Regions from separate parts of the Homo sapiens genome. Here region 1 is reported to be linked to region 2. The links are microRNA targets in miRTarBase. Many come from high-throughput screens and were not tested one by one. Region 2 holds a microRNA gene; the other region holds the end of a gene's coding sequence.

Region 1 (7,000 bases), not on the chromosome of region 2:
AACTAGTCCTTACTTTGATTGAGGTTCTTATGAAGAATGGAAAAACAGGACAATGGTTCTTTAAACTTATGAAGCGAATTTGCTTGCACCTGATTGAATTGAAACAGCAATTCTGCTGCTTTCAAGCTCCTCTGCCATTATCGCTGGTCTGTAATGAAATCACGACTGTGCATTTGATAGCATCAATAACATTCATCTGATTAGGTTGTTATGGTTGTTAACGAACTGCAAACCTACTGTCATTGCTTGTCATTTCTTGACAGTGTTAAGTCCAAAAGTGCTGGGCATTGCCATCGCTCGGTATGACTTCTGTGCAAGAGATATGAGAGAGTTGTCCTTGTTGAAAGGAGATGTGGTGAAGATTTACACAAAGATGAGTGCAAATGGCTGGTGGAGAGGAGAAGTAAATGGCAGGGTAAGTTGGCCCTCTCGATGTGCTGGTGCATGTGAAAGAAGGGGACTGAGCAGTTGTTTGCACCCATTGTGGCACCAGGGAGAAGCCTCTATACTGTATTACAGCTTTCAGCCCACAGGCCTCTGCCCTCTGGAAACTGGTGCTGTGTTTTGCTGATACCAGGGACTCGCTGAAAATATTTGAAATGAATATGATAGTGACATAAATAAAATTCACCTGGGCAAGTGGGACAGCTTGCTGCTTGGAAAAGAGTCGAGGAGCATTTCAGTTCTTTTTAGACCCTGAGCCATAGAGCTAAACTTTATGTGTATTGCAAAATATCTATAAGAACTGCTGATGTAAATTGGAAAGAATGGGACATAGTACCTCTGTCTTTTCATCCTGTTCTACAGCAGAAATAGGAATCATTATGCAGCAGAGCCCCCCTGTATTATACTTAATTTACATATTTATTTGTGTGCTAGTGGATTAGAACACTGTTTATTTTATTCCTCCATTTCGATCATTTACTCTATTAGGCTTCTAAGAGCAGTTAAACCAATCTTCTCACCTACAATGGACATAAAACCCCAGTTTAATTGGGGTGTTATGAAAACAAAATACTCTGTTTGTAGAATCCTTTGAAGTGTCAGATACAAAGTCATGTTGCTGTGTTGGTTGCTTTTCTTTTTTAGGTGGGCTGGTTTCCATCCACATATGTGGAAGAGGATGAATAAATTCAAATCCCGTGTTGCACCCTGCACCAAAAATTTCAGAGAAGGGATAAATAGAAGCCTGCACAGCATCGTGAATTAACTGAAGTGTTTAAAAAGCTGCATTTCTGGCTGTTCAACATCCTCCCTCCTTAGCCCCTCCTAAGTCTTAATGCTGAGATTTCTAAAGATGCTGGTACTGACAGATTAATGGCTTGCCTAGAGCTGTGCAAGAAACAGCCTGCCAGTCTGTCATTGTCAGGGACCAGGGCAAAACCAAGAGCTGTTCTTCCCAGAAGAGCCCTGCAAACACATTGGTTCGTGCTTCCCTTTACTTCTTCTGGTCAGATACCATGAATGCCAGTCATCAGTAAATCTTAATACACTTTTGCTTTATTCTCACATGCCATTCACCAGATTATTTGATGGTACAAAGAAGCAGAAGTGTAATTTTCCTTTTCCCAGCATGACGAAAAATTGGAGTTCTGCCATTTGAGCAGCTTACTGGAAAGATCCAGCCTTACTTGTCTTAAATTGTCCAACAAGGTGACTCATTGCCCGGCAAACACTTTTACCCTCAGATGTTACTCATGATATTATAAAATATGAGGCCAGTGCTCAGGTTTGCATCATAAGTGAGCTATCCCTGAAGGGTTTTAATTACTTATTTGGTGTCCTGATTATATTTGCAAACTTCTTTATAAAAGGTGAAAAAAGCACACAAAAGAGAGGGTGTCTTCATATTAAACCTTCACAACCTTCATGATTTCATAGGATTATTTTGGAAATATAGCACTTGACTTTATGAAAGGATCTGGGCTAGGTATATTAAGGGTAGTTGCCAATAACCTGAAGAAGCTGGCATTGTTTACAGAAACAGATCAAGGGCTATAATTTATGTCATTTTATAGCAGCAGTATCTATTAATACATGCCTTTTCCTCCCATCCACCTCCCCCGCACACACACAAAGATGACCTGGGACATGATTTTTTTATTCCCACATTTTCTTGGAGCACAAACAACTTTGTTGAGGATTTTGGAAGGAAAGCACAACTGGGTCCTTTATTCATTTCTGGGACAGAAAGAGGGTCAGTGGACTTTTGTGGGCCTCCAGCTTCTCTCAGAGTCTCCCCCTCTGCAGCCCATCCTGGGAGTGTATTAACTGGAGGGAAGATGGGTCTTGCAGTACATTTGTTTTGCCCAGCCATCACTCTTTTTTGTGAGGAGCCTAAATACATTCTTCCTGGGGTCCAGAGTCCCCATTCAAGGCAGTCAAGTTAAGACACTAACTTGGCCCTTTCCTGATGGAAATATTTCCTCCATAGCAGAAGTTGTGTTCTGACAAGACTGAGAGAGTTACATGTTGGGAAAAAAAAGAAGCATTAACTTAGTAGAACTGAACCAGGAGCATTAAGTTCTGAAATTTTGAATCATCTCTGAAATGAAGCAGGTGTAGCCTGCCCTCTCATCAATCCGTCTGGGTGCCAGAACTCAAGGTTCAGTGGACACATCCCCCTGTTAGAGACCCTCATGGGCTAGGACTTTTCATCTAGGATAGATTCAAGACCTTTACCTCAGAATTATGTAAACTGTGATTGTGTTTTAGAAAAATTATTATTTGCTAAAACCATTTAAGTCTTTGTATATGTGTAAATGATCACAAAAATGTATTTTATAAAATGTTCTGTACAATAAAGTTACACCTCAAAGTGTACTCTTGGAATGGATTCTTTCCTGTAAAGTCTTATCTGCGACTCTGTCTCGGGAATGTTTTGTCTGTTGCCGTCAGCCGAACTTTGTTATGGAGGGAGCAGCCTCACACAAGCAGAAACACTCCTGTGGATGGTATTGTAGCATGTATTGTTTATTTTAGTCAATAGACCCTCTCCTTATAAATGGTGTTTAGTCTTCCTGTTGCATTTCATGGGCCTGGGGGTTTCCTAGCAGAGGATATTGGAGCCCCTTTTTGTGACATTACCAATTACATCTTTGTCCACGTTTAATACTTTGTTTTGGAAAATTTAAATGCTGCAGATTTGTGTAGAGTTCTAATACCAAAGACAGAAGTAAATGTTTTCCATATACTTTGTCTTGCCTGTATGCAGCCCTCGTGTAATACGGTGAATTAGAGTGGTATTTCACTTTGTATTATTTTGTAAATATGTCAATATAATAAATAGTGACTAAATTGATTTCTAAGAGTTGGAGTCTTTTTATTGAATGATCCCTGTATTAGTCAGGGTTCCCCTGAAAATGGATGGCACTGGATTGTTGGGCCTGTACCAGGCCATCGCCAGCAGTCCAGAGTGAACAGAAGCAGTGTATGTGTGGAGGTCACCACCCCCCCGCCCGCCAGCCCCGTGGACGCTATGCGTCTAGTAGGAGGGCCGCTGCGGTGAGTCTTGAAGCCCAGGGCTGGGCCCGGGCAGAGCCGCCGCAGGTGCAGATGTTGGTGGTAGTAGCACATATTCTAAAGAGAACTTCAAAGGCCGAAGTGGAGAAGGGTTCCATGTGAACAGCAGTTGGACATGGGTCATTCGGTCCTGAGAAATAGGTGAGCGCCATTCTGAATGGACAGGCGATGGCCTCTGTTGCCCTCAGCCAATCGAAAGGGAGTCCGGTTCAGATCCCGAATCCGGAGTGGCGGAGATGGACACTGCCAAGCGTCCAGCACAGTAATGCGAAGGATCCCAGAGAAGCCAATGGAAGCCCCGGGGAGAGTTCTTTTCTCCTTGTGAAGGGCAGGGCGCCCTGGAATTGGGTTCGCCTGGAGAGAGGGGTCCGCGCCTTGGAAAGCGTCGCGCTTCCAGCGGCATCTGGTGAGCTCTGGAGGGCCCTTGAAAGTGCGGGGGAGAGGGTGTAAATCTCGCGCCCGGCTGTACCCATATCCACAGCATTCCTCCCTCTGGAACTAAGACCTCTAGGCCAGCACAACAGAATGTCGCGGGAACAGGAAGCAAAAATTTTGCTAGTGGATCACTTAGGGTGATGGTGAGTGGTGCCACTTCCACTTCCACCCCCTGATTCCTGGACCCTTGAATCCTGGCCATGGGAGAAACAGTACCATACATTGGACACTGATTCAGAGCATACACGGCCTTCTAAAGAATTTTGTCCCATCCCTGCAAAGTATTGTCACCTAGTTGGCATTGTAATTGTGACTTCAAAAGGCCATTCCACCTTTCTATCAATTCAGCTGCTTCAGGATGATGGTGAATTCCATGAGCATGAGCCCACTGCTACACTTCTTTAGCCATAAAGTGAGTGCCTTGGACAGAGGCAATGCTGTGTGGAATAGCATGATTGTGGATAAGGCATTCTGTGAGTCCACGGATGGTAGTCTTGGCAGAAGCATTGCATACAAAATAGGCAAACCCATATCTGGAGTAATTGTCTATTCCAGTGAGGACAAACTTCTGCCTTTTCCATGATGGAAGAGGTCCAATATAATCAACCTGCCACCAGGTAGCTAGCTGCCTGATCACCCCAAGGAATGGTGCCATATCGAGGGCTCAGTGTTGGTCTCTGCTGCTGGCAAATTGGGCACTCAACACTGGCTGTAGCCAGGTCAGCCTTGGTGAGTGGAAGTCCATGTTGCTGAGCCCATGTGTAACCTCCAACCCTGCCACCATGGCCACTTTGTTGATGGGCCCATTGAGCGATGACAGGAGTGACTGGAGAAGGAGGCTGAGTGGTGTCCACAGAATGGGTCATACTAGCCAGTTGATTATTAAAATCCTCCTCTGCTGAGGTCACCCATTGGTGAGCACTCACATGGGATACAAATATCTTCACAGTTTTTGGCCACTCAGGCCCATCCACATACCTCTTCCCCAGATTTCTTTGTCACCAATTTTCCAATCATGCTTCTTCCAGGTCCCTGACCACCCAGCCAAACCATTGGCTACAGCCCACGTATCAGTATATAATCACACAACCAGGTGCACTGATTGAAGTTCTGCCCACTGGAAATATTTCCCTTCAGCACTGTCCTTCAGGGATGTCTTGGAAAGGGGCTGTAGTGCTGCAGCTGTCCACTTTGGGTGATGCCTGCATATCATGAAGAACCATCTGTGAACCAGGCCCTAGTCTTCTCTCCTCTGTCAATTCATCATAGAGAACTCCTTATGCGGCCATTGGTGCAGGCTAGGGAAGAGAAAGCAGGGTGGCAGGAGTAGAGACCATGGGCGTTTGAGCCACTTCCTCATGTAACTTACTTGGCCTTCAAGACCTGCTCGAGCCCGATCACGTATATACCACTTTCATTTGATGATGGAATGCTGCTGTGCATGACCCACTTTATGGCTAGATGGGTCAGAAAGCACCCAGTTCATGATAGGCAATTCAGGTGGCATGGTGACTTGATGACCCATAGTCAAATGTTCAGTTTCCACCAAAGCCCAGTAGCAATCCAAGAGCTGTCTCTCAAAAGGAGAGTAGTTATCTGCAGAAGATGGCAGGGTCTTGCTCCAAAATCCTGGAGGCCTCCACTGTGATTCACCTATGGGGGTCTGCCGAAGGCTCCAAACAGCATCCCTATCTGCCACTGACACCTCAAGCACGATTGGATCTGCTGGGTCATATGGCCCAAGTGGCAGAGCAGCTCGTACAGCAGCCTGGACCTGTTGCAGAGCCTTCTGTTCTGGACCCCACTCAAAACTGGCAGCCTTTCAGGTCACTTGATAATTGGGCAGGACTAATATACCCAAATGAGGAATGTGTTGCCTCCAAAAGCCAAATAGGCCCACTAGGCATTGTGCCTCTTTCTTGGTTGTAGGAGGGGCCAAATGCAGCAACTTACCCTTTACCTTAGAAGGACTATCTTGACAGGCCCCACAGTCCCATAACACACATACACCAGCCCCATAATTAACATGGGGATTAAGCCCTAATTTTGTTTAAGTTTAGCTCAGGATTGCTGCCTAAGTTATGAACAGTGAACTACAAGGTAAACTCAATAGTTGCCAATAACATGTATTGGCATGCTTACCATGTGCCATGCTCTGTTCTAAGTGCTTTATTTGCACCAACTTACAACAACCCCCAAAGGTAGAACCCCATAATATTTTCATTTGCACATGAGGAAACTGAGGTACATCAAGAGGTTGCAACTTTCCCAAAGTCACACAGCTGCTAAGTGTCAGAGCTGAATTCTGACTTGGGTGGTCTGGCTCCAGAGTCCGTATAACCACTACCCTATCCTGCCACACTTTGTAGGGCAAGAGAGAGATTTCGTACATTTTTAAACTTACATAACCGAGAAGAAACTATACGATACTAAACAGTGGTTTGAACAATGAAAGGTTAACACAGAATTCAGAAATATGCCACTATTCCTGCCACCTAAAAGAAAACCCAAAAAAGATATTGCCTAGAGAGATTAGTATCAGATTGAATTTTCGTTTCTACTTTGATTCACTCTTGCACTAGAAAATGGCTGCTAATCCAGAGAGGCTTGGAGTCAAGTTTCCCTTGGTGGAGCAGGCCAGCTGATAATCCACAGTGATGGAGTCTGTCTTAGGGAGAGGGTGGAATCACTTCATTCCTTCTAAGGACCAGGAAAGGCCATGGTGGTAGCTTCTGCTTGACTTCACCATCACAACCTTGCTACAAACACAAAATTCCTCTTATTTTCATTACGATACAGTGGGTTATACAGCCCTGAATCCATTATTTGAGGAGCCAACTCCGTTGGTATCTTTATCACTTCTCTTTGACATATTAACATTACGTGACTGTTAGACCTTGTATCAGTTCATCACCGTCCTCACCACTGCCAATTGTACTCACCGTTGCTCCCTTTATTTGCTAGTTAACATGGGAACACAGCTTTGTAACAAGTATTTTGTCTTCCACCAAATGAGTGAAGTAAAATATGCTGGTAGTTAGTT
Region 2 (7,266 bases):
TAAGAAAAAACAATGCCTACTACACGTAGCTTATATTTAAGCAGGAGAATTGGTAAGATTTCTGGAGAAGAGCAATGGATTATGAGCCAAGGGTGCACTTGAGTTCCAGGACAGGTACACACAGTCCCGATGGGAGCACCCAAAATCGAGTCTACGATGTTGAAGAATATACATTGTCACATACACAAATATTCTCCAGGATAGACCATAGGCTTGGTCATAAAAACTCAATAAAATCTGAACAGAAATACGTAAGTATGGGTGGGGTGGGTTGGCTCACACCTCTAATCCTAGCACATTAGGGGGCCAAGACGGGAGGATCACCTGAGCTCAGGAGTTCCTGAGACCAGCCCCAGCAACATGGTGTAAACCCATGTGTATGAAAAACACAAAAGTGAGCCAGGTGTGGTGGTGCATGCCTGTAGACACTAATTCAGCAGGTTTAGGTGGGAGGTGGAGGTTGCAGTGAGCCAAGATCGCACCACTACACTCCAGCCTGGGTGATAGAGCCAGACCTTGTCTCAAAAATAACCAACTGGCCGGGCGCGGTGGCTGACGCCTGTAATCCCAGCACTTTGGGAGGCCGAGGCGGGTGGATCACGAGGTCAGGAGATCGAGATCATCCTGGCTAACATGGCGAAACCCTGTCTCTACTAAAAATACAAAAAAAAATTAGCCAGGTGTGGTGGTGGGTGCCTGTGGTCCCAGCTACTCAGGAGGCTGAGGCAGGAGAATGGCGTGAACCCGGTAGGCGGAGCTTGCAGTGACCCGAGATCCTGTCACTGCACTCCAGCCTCGGCGACAGAGTGAGACTCTGTCTCAAAACAAAAACAAAAACAAAAAACAAAAAACAAAAAACAAAAACAAAAAAAAACCAGCCAAACAAATAAAAAACATACACACACAAAGAAAGAAAAAAATACCCAAGGTTATATCAGAGTATTCTCTGTATTTAGAACAGTATTTTGTGTGTATATGATTATATTATATATAAGTATATATATAACGAAATATATACCATATATTTCTGAGACCCTGTGTCAAAGAAAGTTCCATATATTGTATGCTCACAGGAAGAAAAATTCCTACACAAGTGCTTGCTTTGGCAGTTCACATAAAAAAAAATTGGAATGACAGAGATTACGCTGGCTGCTACACAAAGGTGACACCCAAATTTATGATGTCCCATATTTATCTATTTATTTTTATTTATTTTATTTATTCATTTATTTTTGAGACGGAATGTTGCTCTCTGGCCCAGGCTGGAATGCCATGGCTTGATTTCAGCTCACTGAAATCTCCTCCTCCTGGGTTCAAGGGATTCTCCTGCCTCAGCCTCCGGAGTAGCTGGAATTACAGATGTGCACCATTGCACCCAGCTAATTTTTGTATTTTTAGTAGAGACGAGGCTTTGCCATGTTGGCCCTGTTGGTCTTGAACTCCTGACCTCAGGTGATCCTCCCGTCTCGGCCTCCCAAAGTGCTGGGATTACAGGCATGCGCCACCGCGCCCGGCCTATTTTTTACTTTCTTGAGACTGAGTCTCACTCTGTTGCCCAGGGTGGAGTGCAGCAGAAGATTTCAGCTCACTGAAAGCTCAGCCTCCTGGCTTCATGTTGGCCAGGCTGGTCTCGAACAACTGATCTCAGGTGATCCTCCTGTCTCAGCCTCACAAAGTGCAGGAATTACAGACAAGAGCCACCATATGCACACTAGTCCCATATTTAAAATTAGGAAAAAAAAAAACAAAACAAAGATGCCCACACCTGAACAGCAAATCGTTTGTTGTTCAAGTACATCTCAAATACATTGTTTATCTAAAATACAAGTTTAACTGGGGTCAGGTATGAACCAAAGAACAGTCCTTACTTTCTTCTTGTCTGTGCATGGGGGGTTAATATTCACATGTGGTCCCATCTACCAAGGACTGGGGAGGGGCAGAGGCAGGAGGATCTAAGCCCACTTCAGCCAGGGCAGCATAGTGAGACCGCCGTCTCATGCATTTATCTCCTGGTCATGCACCCAGATTTCAGCTTCATTTCCCCAATAAACACTGAAGCCCCATGCACTCCACCTCCGTGCTCTTGCTCATCCCATCTGCAGGGACACTGAGGTCCCCTCAACTCCACCTGACCCCACGTGAGGTTCTATACCAGTGCCAGAAAAATTTCCATAAAGTAAAAGGTGCTGATGGCTGTGCCCGGTGGCTCACGCCTGTATTCTCAGCACTTTGGGAGGCCGAGGCCAGCGGCTCACTTGAGGTCAGGGGTTTGAGACTAGCCTGGCCAACATGGTGAAACCCCACCTTTACTAAAAAAAAAAAAAAAAAAAAAAAATCAAAATCAAAAAGTAGCTGGTTGTAGTGGTGGGTGCCTGTAATTCCACCTACTCAGGAGACTGAGGCAGGAGAATGGCTTGAACCTGAGAGGCAGAGGTTGGAGTCAGCCGGGATCATGCCACTGCCCTCCAGGCTGGGTGACAGCAACACTCCATCTCAAAAATGAATGAATGAATAAAAAAGAAAAATACAAATATTAGCCGAGTGTGATGTCAGGCATCTGTAATCCCAGCTACCCAGGAAGCTGAGGCAGGAGAATCACTCGAACCCGGGAGGTGGAGGTTGCATTGAGCCAAGATCGCGCCACTGCACTCCAGTCTGGGTCACAGAGCAAGACTGTATCCCATAAAAGGACCATCTGAGCCCAACAGGCCTATCTTAAAAAGTGCTTCTCTAGTCTCTCCTGGGCAACAGAGACCTTGTCTTAGAAAAAAAAAAAAACACAAAACAAAACACACACACCAAAACAAAAAACAAAAACCTAACAAACAAAAAAACCAACCAAACAAACAAACAAAAAAACAGACTCCCAACATCATCCAAGTCTGATTACAAGCATGGTCTGCAAATGTATTACCAAGATCAGCATCATCTTCAACGTGGCTTTTCCCAAACGGTAACACTCTAAAGGGAGGCACTTTGTTTAAGAGAAAACAAACAGAAAGCGCTTCCCTTTGGAGGGTCACAGCATGGGATCTTCTTGCTCCAGCACTCTGGGTTTTTTGTTGAAATCTTCCTTGACCAGGTTAAAATGGCCACAACAATAAAGATGCATTTATTGGCCCTGTTTGCCTGTTTTCTAGAATCCAGAACATAAACCCCTAAAAGGACCATCTCCAGTTCCTTTCTTCAAAGGCTCTGCAGGTTAGCCTTGTTCATCAAGGGGCAACCCTCCTGAGTTTTGCCTCTAAAGAGAAAAAGCAATGCCTACTACACATACCTTATATTTAACCAAGAGAACTGGGCTGGATTTCTAGAGAACAGCAATGGACTTTGAGCTGAGTGTTCACTTGAGTTCCAGCACAGGGATACATAGTTCCGATGGGAGCATCCAAAATGGAGTCTAAGATGTTGAAGAATATACATTGTCACACACACAAACATCCTCCAGGATAGACCACAGGCTAGTGGATCACCTGAAAGCGGGAGTTCAAGACTAGCCTGGCCAACATGGTGAAACCCGTCTCTACTAAAAACATAAAAATTAGCTGGGTGGGGCAGTAGGTGCCTGTAATCCCAACTACCTGGGAGGCTGAGGCAGAAGCATCACTCGAACCCAGGAGGCGGAGGTTGCAGTGAGCCTAGATCATGCCAGTGCTCTCCAGGATGGGCAGCAAGAGTGCAGGACACGATGGTGGGTGCCTGATGCCTGAATTCCCAACAATTCGGCAGGCTGAGGTGGGAGAATCACTGGAACCCGAGAGGTGGAGTTTCCGGTGAGCAGAGATCCTGCTACTGCACTCCCAACGAAACAAGAGTGTGTCTCAAAAAATCAAAAAATAAAAAGAGGACCACTTAAGCCCAAGAAATCTTGGTGGAAGGTGCTATCCACCCACGCCTGGGCAATAGAAAGCCTGTCTTGGAAAAATTTCAAATCACAAACAGAACCCCGACATCATGCAAGTCTGATGATAAGCACGCTCTGCAAATGTATTACCAAGATCAGCAGCATCTTCAACGTTGCTTGTCTCAAACAGTAACACTCTAAAGGGATGCACGATCTTTTCTTTTATACAACAGACAGTGCTTCCATCTAGAGGGTCACTGCCTGAGATCTTCTTTTTTTTGACACGGAGTCTCACTCTGCCGCCCAGGCTGGATGCGGTGGTGGGATCTCGGCTCATGGCAACTTCTGCCTCCTGGGTTCAAGCGATTCTTCTGCGTCAGCCTCCTGAGTAGCTGGGATTAGAGGCACCCACCACCATGCATATTGCATATATGACTGCATATATGACCTGGTCATGCACCCAAGATGTTGGTTTCATTTCCCCAGTGAAAACTCAAACCCCATGCACTCCACCTCCGTGCTCTTGCTGAGCACATCCCATCTGCAAGGGACACTGAGGTCCCCCTTTGACTCTACCTGACCCCACATGAGGCTTTATAAATCAGTGCCAGAATAATTTCCATGGACTAAAAGGTGTTAATGGCCATGTGTGGTGGCTCACGCCTGTAATCTTAGCACTTTGGGAGGCTGAGGTGGGCAGATCACCTGAGGTCAGGAGTTCGCAACCAGCCTGGCCAACATGGTGAAACCCCGCCTCTGCTGAAAATATAAAAATTAGGCCAGGCGTGGTGGCTCATGCCTGTAATCCCAGCACTTTGGGAGGCAGAGGCCGGTGGCTAACTTGAGGTCAGGGGTTTGAGACCAGCCTGGCAAACATGGTGAAATCCCATCTCTACTAAAAAAAAAACAAAAAACAAAAAACAAAAAGTAGCCAGGTGTGGTGGTGGGCTCCCGTAATTCTAGCTACTCAGGAGGCTGAGGTAGAAGAATTGCTTGAATCCGGGAGGCAGAGGTTGCACTGAGCAGAGATCACGCCTCGGCCCTCCAGCCTGGGTAACAGTGAGACTCCATCTCAAAAACATAAATAAATGAATTTTAAAAAATGAAAATATTATCCAGGTGTGGTGATGGGCACCTGTAATCTCACCTACTTGGGAAGCTGAGGCAGGAGACTCGCTTGAACCTGGGAGGTGGAGGTTGCAGTGAGCCGAGATCACACCACTGCACTTCAGCCTGGGTGATAGAGAGACTCTGTCCGCTAAAAAAACCATTTGAATCCAAAAGACCTAGGTTGGATGTGCCACCGCACTCCAGCCTGGGCAACAGAGATCCTGTCTTAGAATAAAAAAGCAAAACCAAAACAGAACCCCGCCATCGTCCAAGCCTCATGATAAGCATGCTCTACAAATGTATTACCGAGATAAGCATCAACTTCAACGCTGCTTTTCTCAAACCGTAACACTCCAAAGGGAAGCGCCTTCTTTTCCTTTGGACAAGAGAAAGTGCTTCCCTTTGTAGGGTCACAGCATGAGATCTTCTTGCTCCAGAACTCTGGGTTTTTTGTTGGAATTTTCCTTGCCCAGGTTAAAATGGACACAAAAATGAGGATGCATTTATTGGCCCTGTTTGCATGTTTTCTGGAATCCAGAACATAAACCCCTAAAATGACCATCTCCAGTTCCTTGCTACAAAGAATAAGCAGGTTAGCCTTATCCCTAATCCCAGCACTTTGGGAGGCCGAGGTGGGCGGATCACCTTAGTTCAGGAGTTCAAGGCCAGCCTGCCCAATATGGTGAAACCCTGTCTCTACTAAACGTACAAAAAAATTAGCTGGGGTGGTGGTGTGTGCCTGAAAATCCCAGTTACCCGGGAGTTGGGGAAGGAGAATCACTGGAACCCGGGAGACAGAGGCTACAGTAAGCCGAGATTGCGCCACTGTACTGCAGCCTGGGCGACAGAGCAAGACTGTTTCAAAAAAAATAAATAAATAAAAATAAAAAAAATTTAGTGTCAGGGACAAGGAGATTCAACTAAAAAGATACAAATAAATAGAAAAAATAAGAACATTGTATTAATATTGACATCCATTGGGATTACAGAATAGACTGGATAGATGTGGAGGCCTATATTTTTTGTTTTGTTTTGTTTTGAGATGGAGCCTCGCTCTGTCGCCCAGGCTGGAGTGCACCTGCGCGATCTTGGCTCACTGCAACCTCCGCCTCCTGGGTTGAAGAGATTCTGCTGCCTCAGCCTCCTGAGTAGCTGGGATTACAAGCACGCACCACCACGCCCACTTAATCTTTGTATTTTTAGTAGAGACGGGGTTTCACCATATTGGTCAGGCTGGTCTCGAACTCCTGACCTCCTGATCCGCCTGCTTCAGTCTCCCAAAGTGCTTGGATTACACACCTGGCCCTTACTCTCCTAATGAAGGAAACATGGTTTGGATTGATTAAACTAAACTGATGAAAGGCCTGTATTTGAAGTGACCAACCCAAATGGAGCCTCAGGAACCAGATGGCATGTAATCTGCGTTTTTAAAGAGATGGGATCTTGCTATGTGGCCCAGGCCGGAGTGCAGTGGCTATTCAAAGGTGTGATCAGTGCATGGTATAGCCTTAAAATCAAAGGACCCTCCCACCCTAGCCTTTGCAGTAACTGGGACCCTGTGTGTCCCAGGATGCCTGGCCGTGTCACCTATCTTTGAAATGGGACAAGGTGGCTCACACATTTAGGATCACTTAAGCTCAGCTGAGACCATCCCAGGCAAAAGAGACCCCATCTCTACCAAAAATTAAAACCTGAGCCCAACTACTTGCGAGGCTGACAAGAAGACCACTTGAGGCTGGACGTGGTGGCTCACGCCTGTAATCCCAGCACTTTGGGAGGCCAGGGAGGTGGATCACTTAAGGTCAGGAGTCGAGACCAGCCTGGCCAACATGGCGAAACCCTTTCTTGTCTAAAAATACAAAAATTGGCAGGGTGTGTTGGTGGGTGCTTGTAATACCAGCTATTTGCGAGGCTAAGGTGAAAGAATCACTGGAACTCCACGGTGAGTGGAGATCCTGCCACTGCACTCCAGCCTGGGCGACAGAGGTGGGAGTTACAGTGAGTGGAGATCCTGCCACTGCATTCCAGCCTGGGCGACAGAGCCAGTCTCCATCTCAAAATAAAATAAAATAAATAAAATAAAACAAAATAAAATAACAGGCTGGGCACGGAGGCTCACACCTGTAATCCCAGCACTTTGGGAGGCCGAGGCGGGTGGATCATGAGGTCAGGAGTTTGAGACCATCCTGGCCAACGTGGTGAAACCCGGTCTCTACTAAAAATACAAAAATTAGCTCGGCATGGCGGTGCGTGCCTGTAATCCCAGCTACTCAGGAGGCTGAGGCAGGAGAATCGCTTGAACCACGGAGTCG

What was found. The annotated mature microRNA hsa-miR-524-3p reads GAAGGCGCUUCCCUUUGGAGU and lies in region 2 at 5,305-5,325, opposite strand. An mRNA with a match to its seed (bases 2 to 7 or 8) in the 3' UTR can be bound and repressed. Matches are read on the target gene's strand: a 7mer-m8 pairs with bases 2 to 8, a 7mer-A1 pairs with bases 2 to 7 and ends in A, and an 8mer does both.
Region 1: the mRNA of VAV3 is a reported target of hsa-miR-524-3p. The part of its 3' UTR that is shown has no 7-base or 8-base seed match.

What each region holds. Positions count from the first base shown.
Region 1 is chr1:107,567,462-107,574,461 of GRCh38, reverse strand. It overlaps VAV3 (vav guanine nucleotide exchange factor 3), which reads left to right. Exons shown (of 27, transcript NM_006113.5): 26 at 264-415; 27 at 1,090-3,301. The coding sequence ends at 1,131. Among named protein-coding and RNA genes, the nearest start is that of MIR7852, 330 kb to the left of the region's middle.
Region 2 is chr19:53,709,113-53,716,378 of GRCh38, reverse strand. MIR524 (microRNA 524) reads right to left here and starts at 5,377; the gene lies at 5,291-5,377. It overlaps MIR517A (microRNA 517a), which reads right to left and starts at 4,111; the gene lies at 4,025-4,111. MIR519D (microRNA 519d) reads right to left here and starts at 3,032; the gene lies at 2,945-3,032.